Linked DNA regions of Homo sapiens. The protein of the gene in region 2 purifies or fractionates together with the protein of the main gene of each other region. This does not show direct contact. Each region holds a gene or a part of one and is shown on either strand. Other genes may lie near its edges. The genes, in order: AP3S1, DUSP19, TMOD3, MCM6, GTPBP1, GAPVD1 and RHEB.

Region 1 (3,324 bases), on a different chromosome or scaffold from region 2:
TATGGAAGTATTTCAAAGAGAATATTTGAGGAAGGAGAACTAGAACTGTAAGGAAAACCTTAGTCTAACTGGAAAAGTAACCTCACTCACAGTTCATGGAAGACCAAATAAAATGTGGGCCAATTATAAGAAACTAGAATATGTGAGTGTTAGGACTTAAGAAAACATTAGTTTAACTTTGTTTTAGGATGAAACAGACAAGTAGAGTCCCAAGGGTTTTTGTATTCAAAATCAATTAGGTATTGGCTGAAATTATTTTTTACCATCTGGGCAAGAAGGAACAAGAGGCAAGGCTTAAAGCTATTTGTATAAAAAAGATTTTACATTTTCTCAATATACATTTTAGAAAGACTGTCGCCCCCCCACTCCAGATCTCATCTTGCGCAATATGCCTAAGATACACTGCTCTTGATTTGTGAAATAATTGAGTTTCCGAATAATTTACTGAGTTTCTGAATATTAAAAATATGAGTAAAAAATAAATCGACATTAACATCTGCTTAATAGTGATAAAATATACTTTTATTTACTTTGTTGAGTCAGAGGGTTGTAAAAAAAATTATTGCTAAAGTAGATATCAGGCAAACAGAAAGGTGCTTTAGAAGTCCAGTTACCTTGGAGTTTATTTAAACTAAGAGAAAAAAGTCATAATGTTTTCATGCAATACATACTTGGTTCTCCAAATAACAACTGTGTGACATATAGCAGAAGGAATTAAGGAATGCTGCACTTGTGATCCATACAAAACACCAACATTTTAGGTTGTACATAATTAGAGAAATATCTGAAACACTTTTTAAAACACTGTAGTAGCCAATACATAGAGGCATGCCGTAGGTGGGCACAGGAATGCAGTTTAGAAAAGAAAAAAAAAAATCACATAGGAACTACTCAATTTCTTTAAAATCACTGAGCAAGAACAGCAACATTGAACTTTCATACTGATTTTACACAACTTCTATACAGTACCTTGACTTAAATCCAAGAGCAAAAGTTAAGACTCTCCTCCTCTATTTTTGGTAAACAACTGCATGGTAAACTTAGATGACTCTTCCCCCTGGATTTTACCTGGGAGTGGCCTTTTTACATTTTTATTTAAAAGAGGGCAGGTTTGGCACTTTTATACTGATGTCACCAATGTTAATATTTCTTGGGATCTCAGGAAGATTCATATTCTTTACAGCTGATACAGCACGGGCTGGAGCTCCTGCTAAGCCAGCCTGTATACAGAAGCAAATAAAAGAAAAAGAAAATGTACAACTCAGGTGTAGCTCATCATAAAACACTTACAATGGAAGACAATGATAAAAGATTTTCATATAACAAGCTTAGGGACCAGATGGTAGTTTGAATTGGTATGGAATGGTTACTTTGAAATACTAATCTATAAAGAGAAAACAGTGACACATTAAAAAATACAGTGAACACATGCAATGATAACAATGTAAAGATTTAAATACAAATTAATGTGCACTACCACACAATATTCACATGATAAAACCTAAATCTTCACCTATATCTTGATTTAACTGACAGATAGCATGAAGCATGATTTACATTAGTTTCCTTATTAAATATCTCTTGCAACGATTGTGATAGATTTTCTTTTGCTTTTAAAATGGCATTTATTAGCAATATGTGCTGTGAAATAAAAATTGCAAGTAATAGATTGTGCTTGTTTAATTTCTTAGGGATAAACCCTTAAAACATTTTAAAACAATAAAATTAGTTTTTTAAATTGTGAGGGCTCTTTTAAACTTTTCTAATAAAGTTCTAGAACATTAAAAAAATAGGCTTTCAAGTAAAGCCTCAATCCAAAGAATATAGTTCTGCCTAAAGATGAAACTACACGAAGAGGATCATTCCAACCCTTTGATGCATTAGTAAAAATATAACGATTAAAAATGTTTTGTCATATAGCATAGATTCAGCAACATATATTCAGCTTACAGTTTACAAATTTAGAGAAAGAAAAGCATAAATGCAAGAGGTAGTAAATATAAATAAATGAATTCTAAAATTTCCAGTAAGTACCACTAGTGCATAATATTTGGCTTTCCTATTAGTAGGAACATTTGTAATTTGTGAAATAATTTTAAAAGAAAATATGCTTACAAATAAAAGAAAATGCATACATATCATTTTTCTCACCTACGTTAACAGCCTTCATATTTGAGGTTTAATTTATATACCAATTACATTTCATTACTTTTTATTCAGGCTATATAATAAAGCAAAGTCAACAAAGACATCTGAGTTCAGTGGCATCATTTTGTACAAAAATAGACAACAAAAACGAATCTTCCACTTTGATTAGATTATATATGGCAATGTCCATAAAATTAGAAACACTAGCTTTAAGGTCCCTTTTCATAATTTTAGTTTTCTTTTCTTATGTAATCCTACCTTTGTTAATTAAAATAAAAATAATAATAAAGCTGTTACCTGAGAAAAATCTTGACTGATACAAAATAGGCCAGTGTAAACTATTTGCTAAATAAAGGATACAAACATTGTTAAGCAATGAAATAAAAGCCATGGATTATCAATTCAGAATTGGAAATAATAGAAAAATTAGTAGAATAGTATTAATAATAAGTATATTCTACACAGGCAATGATAAGAGTGATACAAATGAATAACTCCATACCCAATTAAATAGTGAATAGGGCTGGAGAAGTTTTATAATTTAATGGATGTTAGTTATTTTTGATGTACAACTAAAAATGTGATTGACCTCTATACTTATACCTACCTGAAGCAATGAAGTTTTTGTTACCCCCCCTTCCTTCCTGCTCCCCCAAAGATGTTGGAGATACAACTAAATAATAATTAAGGCAGCATGTATAATATTTGAAAGGGTCTTTAATTTGATCGTTTCAAGTTAAAGGTCTAGCTACCAAAATTTAGAGTGGGTTGGGATCAAAGAAGAATCCAATTCAAAGAGGTTTACCATCTTTTGGCTTTCTTTTACCAGGAAGTATGTTGTCTACTAAGGAAGAAAAATTTACAAAATTGCAGACGTCCTGGAGGTAGTATCATTTTTTAGATAGGAGGATTTTGTAATTTTTCTAGTTAAAAGACCAATTTGCCACTATTTTTACTTAGGAATTTCCATAAAGAAGACAAATAATGAACTGACTATAGAAAAGTATTGACAAAATATTTGAGTATAAATATTTTAAAGGTGTGAATTATTAAGGGATTTTATTATTGTGAGAGAAATTGTGCGTGTGTGTGTGTGTGTTTATCTGTGTATTTTATTGGACACTATGGTTTACACTTATAAATAGTAAACATAATGTTTTCAGTATTAAATGTACA
Region 2 (3,500 bases):
TAAAAAAACCTTGGGTATAATGTGATAGTCTGCAAGTGCTTGACAGCCACCTATGATGAAATAAGAATTTTGCAGTGGAATGAAAATCAATTGTCACTAAAAATATACTCCTTAGTTCAGCGTTTGGGTGGGGTGGGGGAGTAGCCAAAATCTCTCAAAGAACTAAGCAATGTCTTGGTTTATATTCAGGCACAACCTTCTTATCCTGCAGAGGTCTGGTAGCAAACTGGACAACACTTTGAGGAGCACAGGTCAGAACAGTCCACTCATGACTATCCACAGTAGTAGAGGGGAATGTAAATATGACAAATACAAAAAAGTGATGGGTAGACTGCTTTGAAACAAAATGGAAGAAGTAAAGCAAGAGAATAGGGTCTGGTGGCAGGGAACCTAAGGCTGTTTTACTCCGATTTCCCAGAACTAAATTCAAAGGAAAACCCTAACTTTCCACACCTAAGTAACAAAAGCACCGGGGGCTACTGCCTTTGCAAACCCCTCACCTTTTCTGCATGCAGATGGGAAATTTGCTGTCCACAACCAATCAGACTAATTGCAGGCCAAGTCTTCGTTTGCATAGAAGTATAACTTTGTAACTTCACCCTAGCCTCTCACTGGTTGCTTTTTGCAACCAATCAGATGTTTGCACAGGAGCGTGACCTTTGTAACTTCACTTCAGCCTCTGGTTGGCTGCTTTCTCCAACCAATCAGACTGACTGCAGGATACCACTTCATTTACATAAGGTGAGCATGAAGTGGCCATTGGGAAACTTCTAGTGGGTATTTGGACCCAAGAAGATTCTGTATCCTGTCCCTTGGGCCGCTGCTTGGACCTGCTCCGACACTGTGGAGTGTGCTTTCACTTTCAATAAATCCCTGCTTTTGCTCTTTTGTTGCTTCATTCTTTCTTTGCTTTGATGGGCGTTTTGTCCAATTATTTGTTCAAAATGCCAAGAACCTGGACAACTTGCAGTCATGACCCTCTACTTGTAACAGAAGCATCTAAAAACTTCGTGAATTTAGGTACTTATTTAGACCCATAATGTCTCTCTAATGAACTTTTACTTCTATTGAACAAAAAACTACAAACAGCTTACATGTCTCATAGCAGGAAATAAGATAAATTATAGAATCACCAACTACCAGAATACTGTGCAAAAATTTTAAATGATTTGAATCATCAAGTATAAAAAGCAGGCTATACAGAGGGGACTAGGGCCAGAGACAGGACCAGGAAGGAACTGAGGACCAAGAAGTGCAAATATCAGTACCCAGGACCAAAGTGGCCGCCCAGAGTTCCCGATCTCACATGTGATAGCACCCCGTCAGCCCTCCCCTCCTGAGCAGGGATCCAAGAATGTGCCAAGAGGCCTGCTGGCCTCAGCCGGGTGGGCCTGTACATAGGGTCCATGTGCAATAGGGAGGGAAGTCTTCTATTTTTTGCTGCCCCCTCCCAGCCCGCTGTCTGGGACAGGGGGAGAAGGTATTTTCAAGATAAAGCACAGGTACCACAAATAAAGTCATGAAGTTGCCCTCCCAAAAAAAAGGCAGGCTATAAAAGAATATAAACTGTATGATACTATTTTTATAAAAATACATATATAGGTCTAGAAAAATATATCAAAATGCTAACAATGCTTATATCTAAGTGTGGAAGTGTCTTAATTTTCATCTGCATTTTCCATTTTTTCTACAAAGAACATGGACTACTTACGTCATGTTTTTAAAATCACATCTTATAAACAATGAACATGAAATATCAAATACACATTGTTATACTTTGTACCTTTTGTACATAAAAAGAGGGGACAAATAAATTTAGTTCCTAAAAGGACTCTTTGGGCTATAGAAGTTACCATTACTGTTCTTCTCAGGTGTATTTCTGTCCCTTTAGGCATAAAGGAAGGACAGAGAAGCCAAATAGAGTTTTGCAAGTACAGAGGGAAATGAGTAAAGACTTAGGAAATGGAATCCATTCCATTTGGCAACGGTATGCAAAAAGATGAAAACAACAAACTATAGCCTAGAAAGGTAGTTTTGAAACATGTAATTCACTGAGTAATTAGATTTAACAATACTTGAATATAAAATAGACAAAGGCATGAAGAGATCTTTTCTTAAAAAAAATGAAAAAAATTCAAGAATTTTTATTGCTAAAACTAAATATATATTAGCCTTCCAGGCATGGTGGCTCATGCCTATAATCCCAGCACTTTGGGAGGCTGAGGCAGGTGGATCACTTGACGTCAGGCATTTGAGACCATCCTGGCCAACATGGCAAAACCCCGTCTCTATTAAAAATACAAAAATTAGCCAGGCATGGTGGTGCGCACCTGTAATCCCAGCTACTAGGAAGGCTGAAGCAGGAGAATCACTTGAGTGCAGGAGGTGGAGTTGCAGTGAGCTGAGATTGTGTCATGGCACTGAGTTTTCAGGGCAGGGAAATATTGGCTGAGGTTAGGATTCCAGTATAAAACACAAGGCTTGAGAGGGTAGAACATATTTCTGAAATCTAATTCATCTTATCAGAAACATTTTCTGCAGCTCCTCAGATTCCTGTGGTGCCGCCATCTCACAGACCCTCTCAGCATGCTCCACCTCGGCTACCACCTCCATGGCTGACTGCTCTCCCCTGCTTTCACTTTTGCCTGTCAAAGAAGGAGCTCTTCTTCCATGGTGTCCACAGTATAGACAGGCGTACTCTGAGTTCTGGATTTTCTAATTCTCAACTTGGTTGAAAAGTTGTATTACTGGGTGTTAGATTTGGCTTCGAGGTGGCTGCTGAAAGAGTGGAATGTTATAACCTAGAATTGTGGGGTTGGTTATATCCCCACTGGCAAACTTTGACCAATGGGAAACAGGAGCTGACAGGAAGCCAGGCAGATAAATCCTCCCTTCCAGGCTGGGTTGAGGTGCAGTTTCTTTGTACTGCCTGTCCAGAGGTATTTTGGGTGGTAGAGTAGCTGTACCTGCTGAATAGCCAACAGTCAGCTCACTGTGAAATGAGCCCAGCAGGGTAAACGCATCACTTTGTATTGCTTCTCGTCCCACCTTGAATCACTTTCCTTTCTTGCCACTCTCACTGCCTAGAGATTGTACCTCTCAAATTAAGCATAAGCTCTAAATCCTCATCTCAGGCTTTATTTTTAGGAAACCCAAGCTAAAATCCACTCTAATTTACTGGCCCAAATTAAGGCAAACTTTATTTTTTAAATTTATTTAAAATTCCAAGCTTATTAGAATATTCAATCTCTTGCTTTTCTTTCTAGATATGATTAACCTCTCTAATTTTTACTTGCAACATTTACATCTCTTCTAATGTTAATATGAATATGGATGATATCTATACTTTGCCATCTCTGGCATATTCTACATCTCCTTAGAGAAGGAGCCAATACAGAAACATCCTTTTTATTTTTAAAACTATTAACTCACACACTGGAATGTTACAATCCAGAGCCTGTAAATTTTTTAACAAGAAAACAGAATGGCCAATATTAGGC
Region 3 (3,500 bases), on a different chromosome or scaffold from region 2:
AAAAAAAATACAAAAATTAGCTGGGCACGGCGCGCACGCCTGTAGTCCCAGCTACTCGGGAGGCTGAGGGAGGAGAATCACTTGAACCTGGGAGGCGGAGGTTGCAGTGTGCCGAGATGGCGCCACTGCACTCCTGCCTCGCAACACAGCGAGGCTCCGTCTCAAAAAAAATCAACAACAAAAAACCTGGGTGAGAAATATAATTATTCTCTATTTTATATATTTCTATATCCACATTCTATCATATAAAATTGAATTTCTATCTGGGTCCGCTTGATTAAAAGGGCAAAAAACTTTCCGATAATGTTGAAATCTTTGTTTCAATAGTTCCAAGGACTGATCTGTAACTGAGAACAAATTGTTTGTTGTAGAAAACTGGTCACTTAAAACTATGAAATACGCTTGTCACAGGAAGCTGATTTTACCCATTGACCCAATCATCACAACCTCACTTTAATTGAACTTGAATTCAATCAGTATATAAAGGACCATGCAGATTTTAGAAACAAAGGCCAAATAACTTCTCTGTTAGAATTTATTCTTAAGAGGGAAAGAAGTTCCCCCAATACGTTAGCTTGTGATAGAACTCAGAAACTTGATCGATACTATGTCTTACCTAAGTCATTGTTTTTTGTTATAGCATTAGCTGCTCTGGTTCGTGGTCCCTGCTGTGTAAACTGATATCCAAATTTAAGGATATTTGTATTTTCCTCAAGCATCTTGGCCATTTCCAATTCTACAGCTGTCCCCAACTGCTGCCTCTGGAGTAATTAGAAAAAAAGAACAATATTAATAAACTAGATCAAAATACTTTTCAAGGTAAATTAAGACATTCAGGCACATGCTAATTCTTTGATCTCTTTAAATGTTCCCAATTCCTACAACATATACATAGTTCAGTAGTTCCAAGTACTGATTTGTAACTGAGAACAAATTGTTTGTTGTAGAAAACTGGTCACTTAAAGCTATGAAATGTTTGTCACAGGAAGGGGATTTTACCCATTGACCCAATCATCACCACAGCCTCACTGGAACTTTATACACACACACACACACACACACACACACACACACACACACTAAACTTTTTAAAGTTCAGTAATATGATCATATAGACATCAAAAAAGTGTGAATTACTATAATGACATATCACTTCATACCCACTAGGATAAGTATAATAAAAAAGATAGATAATAACAAGTGTTGGCAAGAATGTGGAAAAATGGGGACATTGCTGAGAGGAATGTAAAATGGTACAGCTACTGTGGAAAACTGGCTGCTGCTCAAAAAGTTAAACATAGAGTTACCATGTGACCCAGCAATACACTCCTAGCTATATACTGAAGAGAAATGAAAATCTATGTCCATGTTAGAGTTTGTAATGAATGTTCACAGCAGCATTATTTCTAGTGGCCCGTATGTGGACACACCCCAAATGGAATAGAATATTATTCAGTCATAAAAGAATGAGGTCCTGATGTATGCTACAATACAGATGAACCTCCAGAACATTATGCCAGGTGAAAGAAGCCAGGCACAAAAAGATCAAATATTGTTTGATTCCACAGATATAAGCTGTCCAGAATAGGCAAATCCTAAGAAACAGAAAGTGGATGAGTGATTGCCAGAGCCTGGTGAGAGGGGTGAATGGGGAGTGACTGCTAATGGGTATGGGGTTTCTTTTTGGGGTAATGAAAATGTTCTGGAATTAGTGGTAATGGCTGCAAAACTCTACAAATATACTAAAAACCATTTAGCTGTATACTTTAAGAAAATGAATTTTACTGTATGTAATTATATCTCAATAAAAAAATGAAAAACATGGATTATGAAGCACTGGGTTAAATTTTAAGACATAATCCTCTTTTCCACCTTCATAGTTTACAAAATGTATTTACTTTGAAGGACTGAAGGAGACATTTAACAAATATTTTTTCAAATAAATGGAGTTATTTTTTCAAATAAAAAAATTAATAGCTACTCTGGATGGAAACATTTCTAACATGTATCTCTCTGCCTTTTACAAAAACCCTACAATGTGGACCTTGCCAGCACAGAGCTGAAAAATTGGAAGGTGGACTAGGTCACATGTAAGAGTCCTCTCAGTTCAAACTAGATAGCCATCTAAATTCTCTTAAAATGATCTAGGGAGAGTATACACCTTTACATTGTATACACTGTTATATACACTGAGTTAATATTCTAGATACCCCAAATGTCAGCTCTCCTTTCAGCCCAGCATCTTCCAACAGGGATCCCTGACAGCCCGCCTCCCATCCCCATCCTGAGTCGCCAAGCCCTACACAGCAGCGTGGGCTGTAGCTTCCTCGACGTTATTATTGTAGAACATTGACCTGATTGTCAATCTTGAGCTCTGCCAGGGTTTCATTATCTCTTAACGCATCAATCAGTGCCAGAATCCCAACTCCCGTGATAAAGTTGGACTCCACATTTAAGCTCTTCAAAGTTTTGTTCACTTTCAGCATTTCTGCAAAAGCCTAGAAATTAGAGAAAATATTAAGAGATTAAAATTTGATACAGTACCTACTACATATTGTACATGCCATAAATAAATACATTAATTAACTGCCTTAATGTTTGTCATTAGTTGTTTCAGTTTGACACAGTAGCCCATAGCTCTCACATGTACAGTTGTCCCTCAGTATTTGTTGGGGGTTGGTTCCAGGACCATCTGCAGATACCAAAATCTTCAGATGCTCAAGTGCCTTATAGAAAATGGCATAGTATTTGCATATAACCTTCACACATGCTCCTGTATACTTTTCATTACCTCTAGGTTACTTAATATACCTAATACAATGCCTACACATCACTTCATTTTTGTGGATTCAACATAGTACCTGGCATACAGCAAATTCAGATTTTGCTTTTGGAAATTCATAGAATTTTTTTCCAAATATTTTTGATCTGAAGTTGGTTGAACCCATGGATGACTGTATCTACTTTTCTTTCTTTTTTTTTTTTTTGAGACAGGGTCTTGCCCTGTCACCCAGGCTGGAGTGCAGTGGCAGGATCACAGCTCACTGCAACCTCTGCCTCCTGGGCTCAATTGATCTTCCCACCTCAGCTTCCTGAGTAGCTGAGACTACAGTTGTGTGCCACCATGCCCGGCTAATTTTTGTATTTTTTGTAGAGATGGGGTTTCACCATGTTGCCCAGGCTGGTCTCAAACTCCTGGGCTCAAGCAATCCACCCACCTCGGCTTCCCCAAGTGCTGGGATTACAGGTGTGAGCCACTACACCTGGCCTGTACCTATTTTTCATATGTACCCAGTCATAATCTTTTGATTTTTTGGTCACATGTAATTCCCCGTTGGTGACATTCTCTACTCCTCATTCCCTACTTCATGCTTCTTTCTTCTGTCTCTCTCACTCTTTCAGTTTCTGTGTTAGACCAACTTCATCAATGTCGCTGTAACATCTTTTCTTATTTGGGTCTTGCTGTAGCTGGATCATGTGAAGCCAAAATGAGGGTAAAT
Region 4 (3,500 bases), about 47 Mb from region 2:
TTTTTCCTCCTGGTATTTTACAGCATCAATTTTATAAGTACTTGTTTTATAATTATTGTGATTATCAATTATGAAAAAGTAATTTTACAGCAACAAACCTATTTTTTGCATGATTTAGGTAGAAAACCTAAGCCAAAAGACTTCACAGACAAGGAAACTGAGGCTCAGGGAGGTAAAAGTGATTTGTATAATGTTAAATAGCCAGCTAATAGCAGATCAAGGCAACCTCTCAAGTTTTCTGACTGTCAGCTAAGTGGTACTTATACCATTTGGTGAATTCCTTTTTTTCCAGAGAAGGGTTTCTTACTTGTGTCTGGTAGGCAGGTCTTGGAATGCAACATAAAAATCCTTGGCAAGAGGGATCTCTTTACGGTCTTTGACGAATGTTTTCAAGGCCCGACACAGGTAAGGGTAAACTCTGAAAAACAAAAAAGTCAGCTGATACCTTAGAGGTTTACCAAGGCCTCCTTCCCTTTACATACCTACCAACAGCCGAGATTAAGGAATTTCATCTGGTTACAACTAAACCTTAGAACTTAACTGTGTAGGACACTTCTATTATCTACTCTAGGTTTAGGACCCTCTTTCAGTTCTCTCCTATCCCACCGGAACACTAAATATAAAATGTCATACCATACCTGATTATCATATAGCACATAAATAATCATACAGCACCCACACTGTTGGCCATTCCTCTGTCCAAGATGACTAGCTGAACAATCATCTTGTCAATATTATGCTCAATACTGTGAATTTTCTGTGGGCTGTTTATGACTTAGTAAGTCATGTGTCAAGTCAGTCAATTTCTTTGGTTTCATTCTGAGACAAGGTCTCACTCTGTCACCCAGACTGGAGTGCAGTGGCACGATCACAGCTCACTGCAGCCTCAATCTACCTAGGCTCAGGTGATCCTCCCATCTCAGCTTGCTGAGTAGCTGGCACTACAGGCATGCACCACCATGCCCAGCTAATTTTTGTGGGGTTTTTTTTGTAGAAATGGGATTTCACCATGTTGTCCAGGCTGGTCTCAAACTCCTGGGCTCAAGTGATCTATCCACCTCAGCCTCCCAAAGTGTTAGGATTACAGGTGTGAGCCACCACATCTGGCTGGTTTGATAAGAAATGGATGAGGACAGGAGAAGTATTTGTGCACTAATGTGAGAACAAATTGGCAAAAATGCTCCATTTGACTGGTGAGAGTGAAGTATGCATGTCCTTTTGATATGTTTCTAATACCTACTCCAGCTTAGTTTGTTTAAGAAGTGGGGTCTGAAACCCTCTAAAAAAGGCGCTACTCTCAGGAAAGAGAACTGCTGCCTGGCTTGTGCATGAGGCATGGCACAGCTGCTTCTACCACCAGGCTTGATTGTCTACCTCTCCCTTATTTGTCAGTGCTATAACTTCTACTGCTGCATGCTTTCACAATAAATCCTGTTGCTTACTTACCCCCTCCAATTATTCTTGATCATCAGCTATGACCAGAAACACAGACAAATCCTCCATCTCCTAATCTACTAAGAAATGAACGAGACTGTGCCTCCTTATCCCTGGGTTTTCATTTATCTTTCACAACTGTCCACAATTTATTTTAACCTGATTCTATTTCTATAGACTGTCACATTTATTTAATCCTAATACAAAGTCTTGTGTGCAAAGATGTTTCTTGCTATATATAACAAGTCAAAACAAAATAAAAGCCTTCTATTAAATATAATGTCTAACCATAGTATTTCTACCAAAAAACCACAATTGGAGCTATTAGTATGAGTTTAAGAAATTTTATATGAATTTGAGTAATTTCATACACAGCATACACACAAAGACATCAAAATGTGACAGAAGATCCTTACAAAACTCTGCACTTGCAGACTTGGAAGGCTCCTGGAACTCTGTTGTAGCAGATCTGCTAATGACGGTGGTGGATTACAAGTGTATAAGCAATTTAATTCTCCTTACTCTTCTCCATTTTCTACAATATATACCTATTACTTTTATAAGCGAAAACAAAATTAAACTTTAAGGGAACAAGAAGTACAACAACGTCAATGCTGTAAAGATATCCCCAGTACAAGAAAAGGACCCACACAAACACCTATTCCTGTGGGGAAAAAGGATCAATGGAATGACACAAAAGTAAGTAAGTACAGTTTTCCTCTTGGGAAAACTATATAGAAAGCAAAGATTTTCAACATTTGTATTTGAAAAAAAAAGTTCAGCTCTGGCCGGGCACGGTGGCTCACGCCTGTAATCCCAGCATTTTGGGAGGCCGAGGCGGGCGGATCACCTGAGATCAGGAGTTCGAGACCAGCCTGACCAACATGGTGACACCCCGTCTCTATTAAAAAATGTAAATAATTAGCCGGGCGTGATGGTGGGCGCCTGTAATCCCAGCTATTCGGGAGGCTGACGCAGAAGAATCGCTTGAACCCGGGAGGCAGAGGTTGCAGTGAGCCAAGATCGCGCCACTGCATTTCGGCCTAGGTGTGACAGAGCAAGACTCCGTCTCAAAAAACAAACAAACAAACAAACAAACAAAACACAACAACAAAAAAACGTTCGGCTCTACAAAGGCCTACATGAAGTTCAGAGCAGTACTAAAACGACCACTGGCAGTATCAAAGCGCCTCTTCTCAGTGGGAAATAACTGTGAAAGCTGACCTTCTGCTACACAAGTGAACACTTACAGTCCAAGAAGAGCTGGCTTCCCGGATTTCAACCCCTATTCAAAGTAAAGAAGATTAATATGCCCATACCTATAGAACTCCTCTTGAATGGTGGTGGAAAGTTGCTGGTTAAATTGTTCCAGGTCCACAAAACTCACAACCAATGTGTTTCTCTCAGGACGAATCAGTTCCTCTGCTAATTGCAAGTATTTAATTTCTCCATCGCTGCTCTGAAACCTGCAGGTACATTCGAGTCAACTAGATTAAGGACACAGGCAGTACAAAGAACCTGAATGATAATTCAGAACATTGGTTAAAGTCCAACAACTAGGCTCAGACAGGCCCATGTTTGGCAGTTCTGTAACTTGGGGCAAGTTACTCCTCCCTTCTGATATGGTTTGGCTGTGTCCCCACCCAAATCTCGACTTGAATTTCCACATGTTGTGGGAGGCACCTGGTGGGAGTTAATTGAAGCATGGGGACAAGTCTTTCCCCTGCTGTTCTCTGATAGTAAGTCTCACGAGATCTGATGGTTTTAAAAAGAGGAGTTCCTCTGCACAAGCTCTCTTTGCCTGATGCCATCCACGTAAGACATCAGTGACTTGCTCCTCCTTGCCTTCCACCATGATTGTGAGGTTTAACTGCTAACTAACAAAAAAACCCAACAACTAACTCTTCTTTTACTACTGTCATGTATAATTAAGATTGGAAAATGTTAAATCAAGAAATTCAGTCTCAAACCCAATGATTCCATTTCTGTAGGGAATTTGCAAACTAACAAATTAGTCAGGGATTTAAGAAGCAGAACAGAAATAAGAATACATGGAAATGAGGTGT
Region 5 (4,170 bases), on a different chromosome or scaffold from region 2:
AGCACCCTCATCTAAAAAGGCTGCACAGCCCCTTCATGCCCTCTCTGCTTCTCCTGAAGTAGCCTTTGAGCCTCAGGCCTTATATGAGCCAAATAATATACTACAATGTGTATGTCTGAGCCATAACCCATGGTAAAGAGGGCACAAGCAGCCTGCCTCCTGCTGCTTAACAGGAAGGGCAGGACCCAAGTGACTGAGAATATGGCACTGTGGATAGAAAGCGCAGTGCTTTCCATCTACATGCCAAAGTCTTCTACCTGCAGTTGGCATCTGGAAGCCCACAAGACATATACCTCATATACCTCCATGCCCTCCACCCACAGGCCAGTGGCTTCCAGGATAACAAAAGAATTCTGTTCTATCTTGTCTTAGCTATATTGAATATTTGGGAATGAAAACTGCCTGCAAGACTCATCTTCATCAACAAAGCACCATCACCATTACCACTACGAGGAGTATTAGCACCGTCATTTTGCAAATGTCTGCCAATAACATTGAAGTGTCAACCATTTACTTGGGTAAGCCATTTGGCAATCAGACCCCATTCTCTAACCACTCCTGTGTGACCTTGGACAAAGAATTTAACCACTCTGAGTTTCAGTTTTTCAATCTATAAAACGGAGCTAATACTACCTGCATCCTAAGGCCACTGTAAAGAGCAAATATAATAACATGTAAAGCATCTAGTCCACAGCTCAATAAATGTGAAACTACAAGGTTTTCTTCACCCAATCATTCCCAGAAAAACCTTGTTGGATGAAACTAGCCACCACTATTCACTAAGTGTTTCTCCCTTTGGAAGCTCTCGGAGCCTTAGGTCTCCACATTTTCTATCGTAAGGACATGAACCTTTCGCTTCTAATCTGTTCCTCCGGAATCAATCTATTCAACCCAACCCTTCTCTCCCTCCACACCATCACTTTTTCTTTTTGATATCATCGATATTAATATACATATGATTTTTTTTAATTGTAAGGAGGACTTCCCCAGCTATGTGATGAAATAACACTTCTAGGAATATTAAATGAGCTGGTCAAGAAATGAAGGTACTACCGTCTTTGCAACTCTGCCCTGCAATTTCCTATCATGTTTCTTCAGCACCTTGACCATGTGTTGACATCCAGTTTGTTTGCTCTTGAGTCAGGTCCATAATCTTGTAACTTCCTGAGTTGACTCATCAGAGCTTGTAATTGTAACCTGGATGTTTCCTGGGTCTTTTACATCGTCCTGGCCATCCCTCTCTCTAAGTTTGGCCATCCTCATTATGGCCTTACAGGCACAAGACAGGACCAACTTTGACAGGCTAGCTGGCTTCCAAGTGCTCACCTGAGACTACAATGGCAAAGAGCAGTTGAAAATAACTTGCTTAGGTTGCAGGGAAAGTTCCTCCCCAGTTTAGGACCAAGTTTCATGCAAATTTGCCGCCATAAACTATAAAAAGTCACAAACATTTTCAAAGCTGGATAAAATGTCTATCGTAACTATCCTACAAATGTAAGTGGTGGTATTGGTGTTCTATCTTTCACCCACTGCTATTTAATCTGCACAGGAAATTAGGAACTATCTCGTTCACTTCAAACATTTACTGAGTCTCTAGTATGCATCAGGCACTATTAGGTGTCTTCTTAAATATTTCTAATTTTTACAACCCATCTGTACTTTCTTAAGATGAGGTGGTTGGAGAACTGAAAGGTTAAGAAACTTTCCCAACGTCACAGAGCCTTTCGATGGTAGGGCAGGAAAGGGAACCCAGCCCTGTCTGACTCCCAAGTTGGCATTCTTTCCCTAAGGAACGTTAAGCACCTTCAAAACACCAGTCACATCTTGTATTTACTTTTCTATTCTTCACAATGTCAAGCCGTTGGCGAGGCCTTAATTCCTGCCTACCTTCTCGACAGCTCAAAAAACACGGTTTTAAACGTCCTTCACTGCTCCACTCATACAAGATGAGCTTCCACTCACAGGATAGCGAGACTAAGGAGCCTGACCATCTTTCCATTTTGTTTCGGGTGGCCTCGAAAAGTAGACATTCTCGGACATGCTCCTCCCCAGCTGAGCGACTACTTTCTGTTTCCTTTCCCGAGTCTGGGAAGAGACGCGGCGGCCACCCTGCCCTGGCCTCCGACTACCTGTCTTCATGAGCGTCTCGGCCCCCTGCCCGGGCCCCCTCGCCCCTCTGCTGTCCCGCGCGGTCCAGGGAGAGGAGACTCTCGGTCTCCGAATCCCCTCAAGTGGGGACCCGAAGAACGGGGAGGGGCACTGAGCGGGGACAGGGAACGCGCGGAGCGCAGCTGGCATCGGGCGCCCCCGTTCCACGTGGCAGAGCCGAGGGGTTACGATCTCGGCGGGAGACGGGAGGGCGGGAGGCTGGGTTGGCGACGCGGGGGAGCCAAGGTGGGTGCGGGGACCATGGGGACGGCCCCTCGCGCCGCGAACCCCCGCACGTCCCGGAGACTAGCAGGTGGGCGGGCTCGGCCCCTTCTTCCCGTTCCGCGCTCCCCGCGGACAGGGCGGCCGCTGGCCCCGCCGTCGCCCGGGAGACTGCTCGGCCAGCCGCCCGCTCCCCTCAGCGCCCGCCGCCGCCGCCCGGGCCTACCTTGCTGGTGAGGTCCAGCTCTGGCTCGCCGTTGAGCGCCTCGCCGTCCTCGCTGCAGTCCGAGTCAAAGCCGCCGTGGAGTCGGGCGGCGGCCGCCGCGGCCCTGGCCGCCCCCGGGGAGCTGGGCTCGGGGGCGAACATAGAGGCCGGGACCGGCGAGTCCATCGCGGAGCGACTGCGCTCCGTCGCCATCTTTAATAACTTAGGCTAATTCGTAGCCGGCTTCCCTCCCTCCCAGGCTCATTTGACTAATCTATGCACAGAGCCCCGCCCCGCTCCTTATCGGAATAATTTATGCAAAACTCCAGCCGCGTACTGGGTGACACGTACCTCTAGCTAAGAAACAGTCGACTAGGCCTCTCAGCCACCAATCCCTGCAGAGCTTTCAAGTACCTAATGAATAATTAATGAGGCCCAAATCCCAACAACAAATGTCTGAGACGTCACGCGCCCTGCTCCCAGCTTGGGAGGGGGCAGTACCGAGTCCCCGCTACCCGCCTGAAGCCTTCCCGCCAACGGAAGCAGAGAAGTGTCTGACTGACACAGCAGCCATCCAATGAGGAGAGAAATACAAACAACGTTACTCGTCAACGCCCCTTCACTCTCCTTGTTTCCAGAGGCGGTACTAAGCCTGCAAATCTTACTGCAAAACAGTAGGCGCTGTAAGCCTTCCGATGACGGACAAGGGCAGGACCCAATCGAGTCATAGAACAGGTCCCGCGCCTGGACCTGCTCATGGAGATAGTAAACTGCAAAATGAGCCTCCCACTCGATTCAGTGACTGAGGCAGTTGCTGGAACGCCGATGTCCAACGTGCTGGCATGCTCCAGGCAACTTTAATAGTAGGATCGATGCTGTAAGTTCCAAGAGTTGTAATACTATAGCAGCCAGAGTGAGGCAATAATTAAATGCTGACCTTAGGGAGAATTCTCCATTCACTGCCTTTGCGGAGGCAATCACACGAACTAAAAACAGAGGCAAGCAGCTAAAATTAAAAGCCAAAAAACACCTCACCACTTTTGTGGTGAACTGCTAAACCGAAATCTAGGGTCTCATAAGGTAGTTTCCTATGGATTATTTTTCCAGTGTCATCAGTTGTGAAAAGCCCCAACCCAAAATGCCATCAACACACGTTTTAGTGTCTTGAATTCCTGTTTCAAAAGCCGGAAAAGCCTAGGCCGTCATTGTTTGGCGAAATTAGGGATTAACCAACGTCTATGAATGTCGGCCTTGGCCACTCGAACCAGGCATCAAGCAAACAAGAGCATGTTTGAGAAGATAAGGAATCCAAGACTTAGGGTTTGGACCTAAACCCTAAATCTTTAGTGAGCAAGTGGCAGGATTGAAAATGGCTTTCAGTTTTGGGGATCTACCTGAGAAGAAAGAGACAGTCTCTTCTTGTCCCTGTTTTCCACTACTATCAAGTCTTATTTGCACAAACACAGCTGGGAATCTTGGACAGGAAGTCATCTGATTCCAATGGTCTTGATACTGTTCTTATGTGCTTTTTAATTTCTTCCTTGCCAAATTGCTCACCTCCATCCTATATGGGCCGGGAGCAATGGCTCACACTT
Region 6 (2,441 bases), on a different chromosome or scaffold from region 2:
AACCATCACTGTTTGATTTCTTGACAGGTATGTGAGATGGGGAGTGATTTGATTTTTTTTTTTTTTTTTAATAGAAAAGAGGAATAGTTGTTCCCCAAATGTTTCTTCCTCCACTGCCTTCCAGTACTTTCTTTACATGAAAGATTAGTGTAAAAGTACAAAATCAGCCCAGGAAACATTCAGCAGCCACTAGTTACTACATAGAATTTATAAAGTGGATGTTAAATGGAGAGAGAGTTGGCTCAGGTCCCCTGAAATCTTGTAGGATTAACTTCTCTGAGGAAAAGAAAAATCAGGTTTGCATTTTGTATTAATATTCTGCTTTTAGAAGTAATAGAAATACAAGTTGAAGATTGTCTTTACTTACAAAATTATATTTTAATTTTTTTTGAGACATAGTCTTGCTCTGTCACCCAGTCTGGAGTGCAGTGCTGTGATCTCGGCTCACTGTAACCACCATCTCCCAGTCTCTAGTGATTCTCATGGCTCAGCCTCCCTGGTTGCTCAGATTACAAGTGTATGCCACCACACCCAGCTAATTTTTGTATTTTTTGTAGAGACAGGGTTTCGCCATGTTGGCCAGGCTGGTCTCGAACTCCTGGCCTCAAGTGATCCGCCTACCTCGGCTTCCCAAAGTGCTGGGATTATAGGCGTGAGCCACCGTGCCCAACCACAAAATTATATGTATATATATTTAAACGTGTCAAACATTTTGCTTTCTTTCTCCATTTTAGGTAAAATCTCAGCCACAGTAATTGCTTTCTTCTGCTTTTTCTTTATAAAAACCTGCTTATGAAGGCCTTCTGATACAGATAGTTAAATCGCTGTAGTAGGAGGCTCAGGTTTTCTAAGGGATTGCAAATGTGCTGCATGGTTTTTCTATTCCTATGTCCTGGAAGCCTTTGTTTAAAGTGGGCTTTACAAATGTGTCCCTGAGGTGCGTGAGCAAGAGAACAATCTCAGCCCCAATACGGGGGCTGTGTTCTTGCCGTAAGAATCTGTAGCTGACTGGTGTGCTGAACCCGGGCACTCTTTTTCCTATTGTTTGCCATGGAAATTTCCACTTTGGACCGAGTAAGGTCAACTAGGTGTTTTAAAATTGTTTTTCTCCTATGTGATTGGGTGTGAAGAGGGAAAGTAGGAATACACTCAGAATTATTACTGGATTGCATAAAAGTGATAGAAGTGTAGTGGGGTTCACTTCCTCAATTGGTGCTTCCTAGATTTTTCTCTCCCATCTCTTCCTGCTTTGTTTCTTTAAAGAAAAGGCTGTTGTCTCTCTTTTTAAATATTTAAGTCTAGTGAGTTTATTTTGTACGCAATTGCTTTAATTTTAAGGGAAGTAAATCTGAAACTATCTTGAAGCCCAAAGGATTTTTAGTAAGTGGATTAACAGTGATGAGGTATTTGCGATTACTTTAAATGCCAAAATGCTTGAGAACTTTGCCAGGTTAAAAATTACTTAATATATTTTAGAATGTAGGTTAGAAAGTAGTAGGACAAGGAATAGCTTTATTACTCTTGAGAACACTTGGATAAATGAAAATATAGTTTGCTTCCGTGTTAAGTTGTGGTTGAGCTATGGAGTGACCCTGGAGCTGCCGCATCCCACAGGCCTGAGCTCAGCAAGGGTTCAATTCAAGAGAGATGACGTCTCCACTTGGATAATGGCAGACAGTGTGGGTAGCGGCCATGCACTAGGGGAATTCACCTCTGTCAAATTAATACTCTCCTGTCTACTGGATTCTTCTTGTGCTTCACCTGGATTAAAAAGCTGTACTGCCTCTTTTGAAACAGATAAAACCTTTCTATAAGTCTCAATTAATGAGCTTGCACAATCTTGTATATGTACAGGAAACCCCTCCTGTCTCCTAATGTGATTAGTACTGTAAAATATTCTATAAAACTGATTAAAAGGGGAGAGCAGTTTGATTCACAGGGTTTTATGTTTCTGTCATCTATTTTATATTCAGAAGCATTTCTGAAAACGTATTTGACTTCCGAATGTTCTGATGTTCTCCGTGAATTCACACACATCTTTTTTATCTGAACAATAAGGGTGTTTGCTAAGTATGGCACAAGAAGGAACTAGAATGACCTGGCAGTAACTAACACAATGGTGAACATCTAAGGGTTTTTTTTTTTTTTTTTTTGAGACAGGGCCTGGCTCTGTCGCCCAGGCTGGAGTGCAGAGGCAGGATCTAGGGTCACTGCAAACTCTGCCTCCTGTTCTCAAAGATCCTCCAGCCTCAGCCTTCCCAGTAGCTGGGACAACAGGCATACGCTACCACACCTGACTAATATTTGTATTGTTTGTAGAGGCAGGGTTTTGCCATGTTGCCCAGTCTCCTGAGCTCAAGCGATCTGCCCGCCTCAACCTCCCAAAGTGCTGGGATTACAGGCGTGAGCCACTGCACCCAGACCTTCATCTATGGATTTAA
Region 7 (3,500 bases), on a different chromosome or scaffold from region 2:
CCTGAGGTCTGGAGTTCGAGACCAGCCTGGCCAACATGGTTGGTCCTGTCTCTACTAAAAATACAAAAAAAGTTACCCAAGCGTGGTGATGGGCACCTGCGATCCCAGCTACTCAGGAGGCTGAGGCAGGAGGATAGTTTGAACCCAGGAGGCGGAGGTTGCAGTGAGCTGAGATGGCGCCACTGCACTCCACTCTGGGCAACAGAGTGAGACTCTGTCTTATAAAAAAAAAAAAAGAAAAAAAGTAGGGGTTGCTGAGAAGGAAAGGCCACAAGTTGGTAGACCTATTTACTCCTTATCCGCAGCCCAATACAGTTCAAAATGTCTCTAGAATTACTAATACCTGAAATTATTCTCTACAAAGCAACCTACATGAGCATTTGAAAATTAAACGCTACTTCTCTGCTTCCAATCCTCATTGCAATTAGAATAAATTCTCAACATTTTTTTTTTTTTTTTTTGAGACGGAGTCTTGCTGTGTCACCCAGGCTGGAGTGCAGTGGTGCAATCTTGGCTCACTGCAACCTCTGCCTCCCGGGTTGAGGCGATTCTCCTGCCTCAGCCCTCCTGAGTAGCTGGGATTACAGGCACGCGCCACCACACCTGACTAATTTTTTTTGTATTTTTAGTAGAGACAGGGTTTCACCACATTGGTCAGGCTGGTCTCGAACTCCTGACCTCATGATCCACCCGCCTCGGCCTCCCAAAGTGCTGGGATGACAGGCGTGAGCCACCGCGCCTGCCCTAAATTCCCAGCTTCTAACCGTGGCCCACAAACACCAGGCCATCCCTGCTCTGGTTACCACTCTGACCTCATCCGCCAACAGCCCCCGACAACCCATCCTGAGGCTCCAGTCACATCCCTTCTGCTCCTGGAGTTCCTGCCTGCCTTGGCCCCTTTACTCTAGCAACCCCCACTGCCCCCATCTCTGAATATATGACTCATCTTTGTCATTCTGATCTGAGCTCAAATGTTAGTTTCACAGAGAAACCTTCAAGACCACCCTAAGGTAGTACCCATTCCTTAAAAGTCATTCTCATAGCTACTGTTTTATTAAGTTATTTGGAATGATATTCATTTAGTGAACACTCCACTGAAGCCAGCACAGGGCCAGCCGACACATTGTAAACATTGAGATTTCTGAACAAATGAACGAAATTAAAGCGTAGATCTCCAAAGGTCACTCTTAGCCATTTAGATACTACAAAAGATCTCAATTTTATACAAATGAAATACAAAACACAGTTCAACAGAAATTAAGAAACAATTCAATTAGTATTTATTGGTACCTAATCACAGGCTTGCCTGTGATATAGGAATACAATAGTTTAAGAATTCCACAAATTTAAAATGAATTGTGTTGAAAAGAAACCATGTTATATATGCTAGCCTGTAAAGGAGAATTTAACTCAAAATACAGCAGAACTACTTCAGGTAACAAAAATAGCAAGAAGAAAACTCCTCTCATGTTATTGAAACTGAAAAATTAGAAGGAGTAAAAAAAAAACAAACTGTTATTTACACTGAATGCTACTGCTTAAAGAAATGAAATTTAATTAGAAAGAAAGAAGGGAACAAACTTCTTAAGGGCTTTTGCAAGGTACTTCTAAGGACTCCAGTGGGCTTTTTATACCCTTATGTGGGTAGGATAAGGGTTTGTGGGGTTTTTGTTTTGCTTACAAATGGAAAGAAAGGAAAGAAAGCGATCATTTTCTCCCTAAAGATATGGGCAAGAGTTACAAAGAAAAAAGGAAATAATATAATTAAAAAGATTTTTGCAACATTTTGTGTAGTAGAACTGGACTAAAAATAGTGAAAGAGGGGCTAAGTATGATACATGGGATAAGCTCCCCAAGCACTGGGCAACCAGGAACCCCTGGATCAGACAGTCCTCTGAACTGGCACTGGCCAAGTCTCGACAACCTGACTTGCGGGAGTGAAGGGACGGGGGAAAAGAGCCTCAGGAGTTTCCCGTGAAATTCAGGAAGCCACATTTGAACAGAAAAGAAAGTTACACACATTAAACAAGACAGCATGAGATCAAGTGCAAAAACGGAGTGAGAGAAGAGCTCCTTATTTGTATCACAATGGGCATACACTATTTGACAGGCTAAATTAACATTTCACTTGAAAACATAAGTAATCATTCCGGTAACAGACAATGTAGTCTAACCAAAATCACATCGCAGGTTGACAGCCAACTGTTGTTTTCATGAATAGTAAACTGGGATACCAGAATTTAAAACGTATTCCTCCAGGGTGGAAACTGGATTTTCAATCAGACTGGCCCTAGGAGAAAGGTACTGTTCATTAGCAGAAGTGGCACTGGAGAAAAACTACGTTTCCCTTGGGTCTCTCCTCCCTGGGGCTCTCCCGCCAAGGTGAGGTCATTAATTATTTAACTAATCCAGAAGGGATAGGAAGGCTATATTTGCTAACATGCTGTTTTTTGCCATTTCCATTAAAAAGTGCTATTATTAACTAGTGTTGAAATCTTGACAAGTCAGCATTAAATGCTAATGAATCTTCATAAATAAACCCCACCGCTCATTTTCAAGTGTTCTCAGTTCCAGTTGTAATTTCTGGCTTTAAGGAGTGTCTTCTGGAGACGTAGTTCAGATCTTTTGGTTAGGTTTTTCTAGTTTGTTTGCAACCACAAAAAGGCATTGGTGATCTCTACTGTGATCACCTTTAACCTTTTTCTCTCAATAACTTCATATATTTACTTTGGCTTTTGTCCTTAGCAAATTCAGGTCTGGAAACACTGTTACTCGCTTGCTGAAGATAATCTCACACTCCAGATCAACTCTTTGGAAAAATGTTACATGAAAACTACACAGGAGTGATCCCAAATAAATGGAAAAGTAGCCCATACTCAGATGTGTGTTTATCCTCAAACACAAATCACTCATTTAATGACATAAATTACTATAAATGGTTTAAAAGGCAGTATCTCAATTCCTACAATTAACTGTCAAATACTCTTCCTCCAAACCAAAACCCACCTTAACTTTTAAAAATAAAAATTATTTTAAAAAATTCTTCTGAGCTTTTATCAGGGAACAGCATTGTATTATTTTTTCCAATGATAAAATGGCACAGTGAGTTTCTCAGCTGGTATTTTCACTACAGAAGGTGTACTTTCAGGGGTGTTGACTCAATCTTATACCTCATGATTACTGCAAAATAGGCACTGTTTACAGAATTATTTTAAGTTTTCAGATTAATATTGACTTTGTTATCATGCTTATTCTCCTAAAAAATAACTTATTAGCCCGGTGTGGTGGCTCATGCCTGTAATCCCAGCACTCTGGGAGGCTGAGGCCGGTGGATTGCTTGACCCCAGGAGTTTGAGACCAGCCTGGACAACGTGATAAAACCCTATCTCTACAAAAAAAATATAAAAATTAGCTGAGTGTGGTGATGTGTGCATATAGTCTCAGTTACTCAAGAAGCTGATGTAGGAGGATCGCTTGAGCCGAAGGGTTGAGGCTGCAGT

The links.
Region 1: the proteins of DUSP19 (region 2) and AP3S1 purify together in Homo sapiens (affinity purification with mass spectrometry, with the first as the bait; one large-scale study listed by BioGRID). This does not show direct contact.
Region 3: the proteins of DUSP19 (region 2) and TMOD3 purify together in Homo sapiens (affinity purification with mass spectrometry, with the first as the bait; one large-scale study listed by BioGRID). This does not show direct contact.
Region 4: the proteins of DUSP19 (region 2) and MCM6 purify together in Homo sapiens (affinity purification with mass spectrometry, with the first as the bait; one large-scale study listed by BioGRID). This does not show direct contact.
Region 5: the proteins of DUSP19 (region 2) and GTPBP1 purify together in Homo sapiens (affinity purification with mass spectrometry; one large-scale study listed by BioGRID and IntAct). This does not show direct contact.
Region 6: the proteins of DUSP19 (region 2) and GAPVD1 purify together in Homo sapiens (affinity purification with mass spectrometry, with the first as the bait; one large-scale study listed by BioGRID). This does not show direct contact.
Region 7: the proteins of DUSP19 (region 2) and RHEB purify together in Homo sapiens (affinity purification with mass spectrometry, with the first as the bait; one large-scale study listed by BioGRID). This does not show direct contact.

What each region holds. Positions count from the first base shown.
Region 1 is NC_000005.10:115,911,258-115,914,581, reverse strand, and holds the end of AP3S1 (AP-3 complex subunit sigma-1), read right to left. Parts: intron 2,494-3,324; coding exon of another isoform or gene 2,446-2,493; exon of another isoform or gene 1,227-2,445; intron 1,221-1,226; coding exon 1,092-1,220; 3' UTR 501-1,091; downstream 1-500. UniProt on the Homo sapiens protein: Part of the AP-3 complex, an adaptor-related complex which is not clathrin-associated. The complex is associated with the Golgi region as well as more peripheral structures.
Region 2 is NC_000002.12:183,088,747-183,092,246, reverse strand, and holds part of DUSP19 (dual specificity protein phosphatase 19), read right to left. Parts: intron 1-3,500.
Region 3 is NC_000015.10:51,899,153-51,902,652, reverse strand, and holds part of TMOD3 (tropomodulin-3), read right to left. Parts: intron 2,499-3,500; coding exon 2,355-2,498; intron 762-2,354; coding exon 617-761; intron 1-616. UniProt on the Homo sapiens protein: Blocks the elongation and depolymerization of the actin filaments at the pointed end. The Tmod/TM complex contributes to the formation of the short actin protofilament, which in turn defines the geometry of the membrane skeleton.
Region 4 is NC_000002.12:135,869,944-135,873,443, forward strand, and holds part of MCM6 (DNA replication licensing factor MCM6), read right to left. Parts: intron 2,901-3,500; coding exon 2,754-2,900; intron 419-2,753; coding exon 308-418; intron 1-307. UniProt on the Homo sapiens protein: Acts as a component of the MCM2-7 complex (MCM complex) which is the replicative helicase essential for 'once per cell cycle' DNA replication initiation and elongation in eukaryotic cells.
Region 5 is NC_000022.11:38,704,574-38,708,743, reverse strand, and holds the start of GTPBP1 (GTP-binding protein 1), read right to left. Parts: upstream 2,801-4,170; 5' UTR 2,789-2,800; coding exon 2,597-2,788; intron 1-2,596. UniProt on the Homo sapiens protein: Promotes degradation of target mRNA species. Plays a role in the regulation of circadian mRNA stability. Binds GTP and has GTPase activity.
Region 6 is NC_000009.12:125,365,267-125,367,707, forward strand, and holds the end of GAPVD1 (GTPase-activating protein and VPS9 domain-containing protein 1), read left to right. Parts: 3' UTR 1-1,941; downstream 1,942-2,441. UniProt on the Homo sapiens protein: Acts both as a GTPase-activating protein (GAP) and a guanine nucleotide exchange factor (GEF), and participates in various processes such as endocytosis, insulin receptor internalization or LC2A4/GLUT4 trafficking.
Region 7 is NC_000007.14:151,492,396-151,495,895, forward strand, and holds part of RHEB (GTP-binding protein Rheb), read right to left. Parts: intron 1-3,500. UniProt on the Homo sapiens protein: Small GTPase that acts as an allosteric activator of the canonical mTORC1 complex, an evolutionarily conserved central nutrient sensor that stimulates anabolic reactions and macromolecule biosynthesis to promote cellular biomass generation and growth.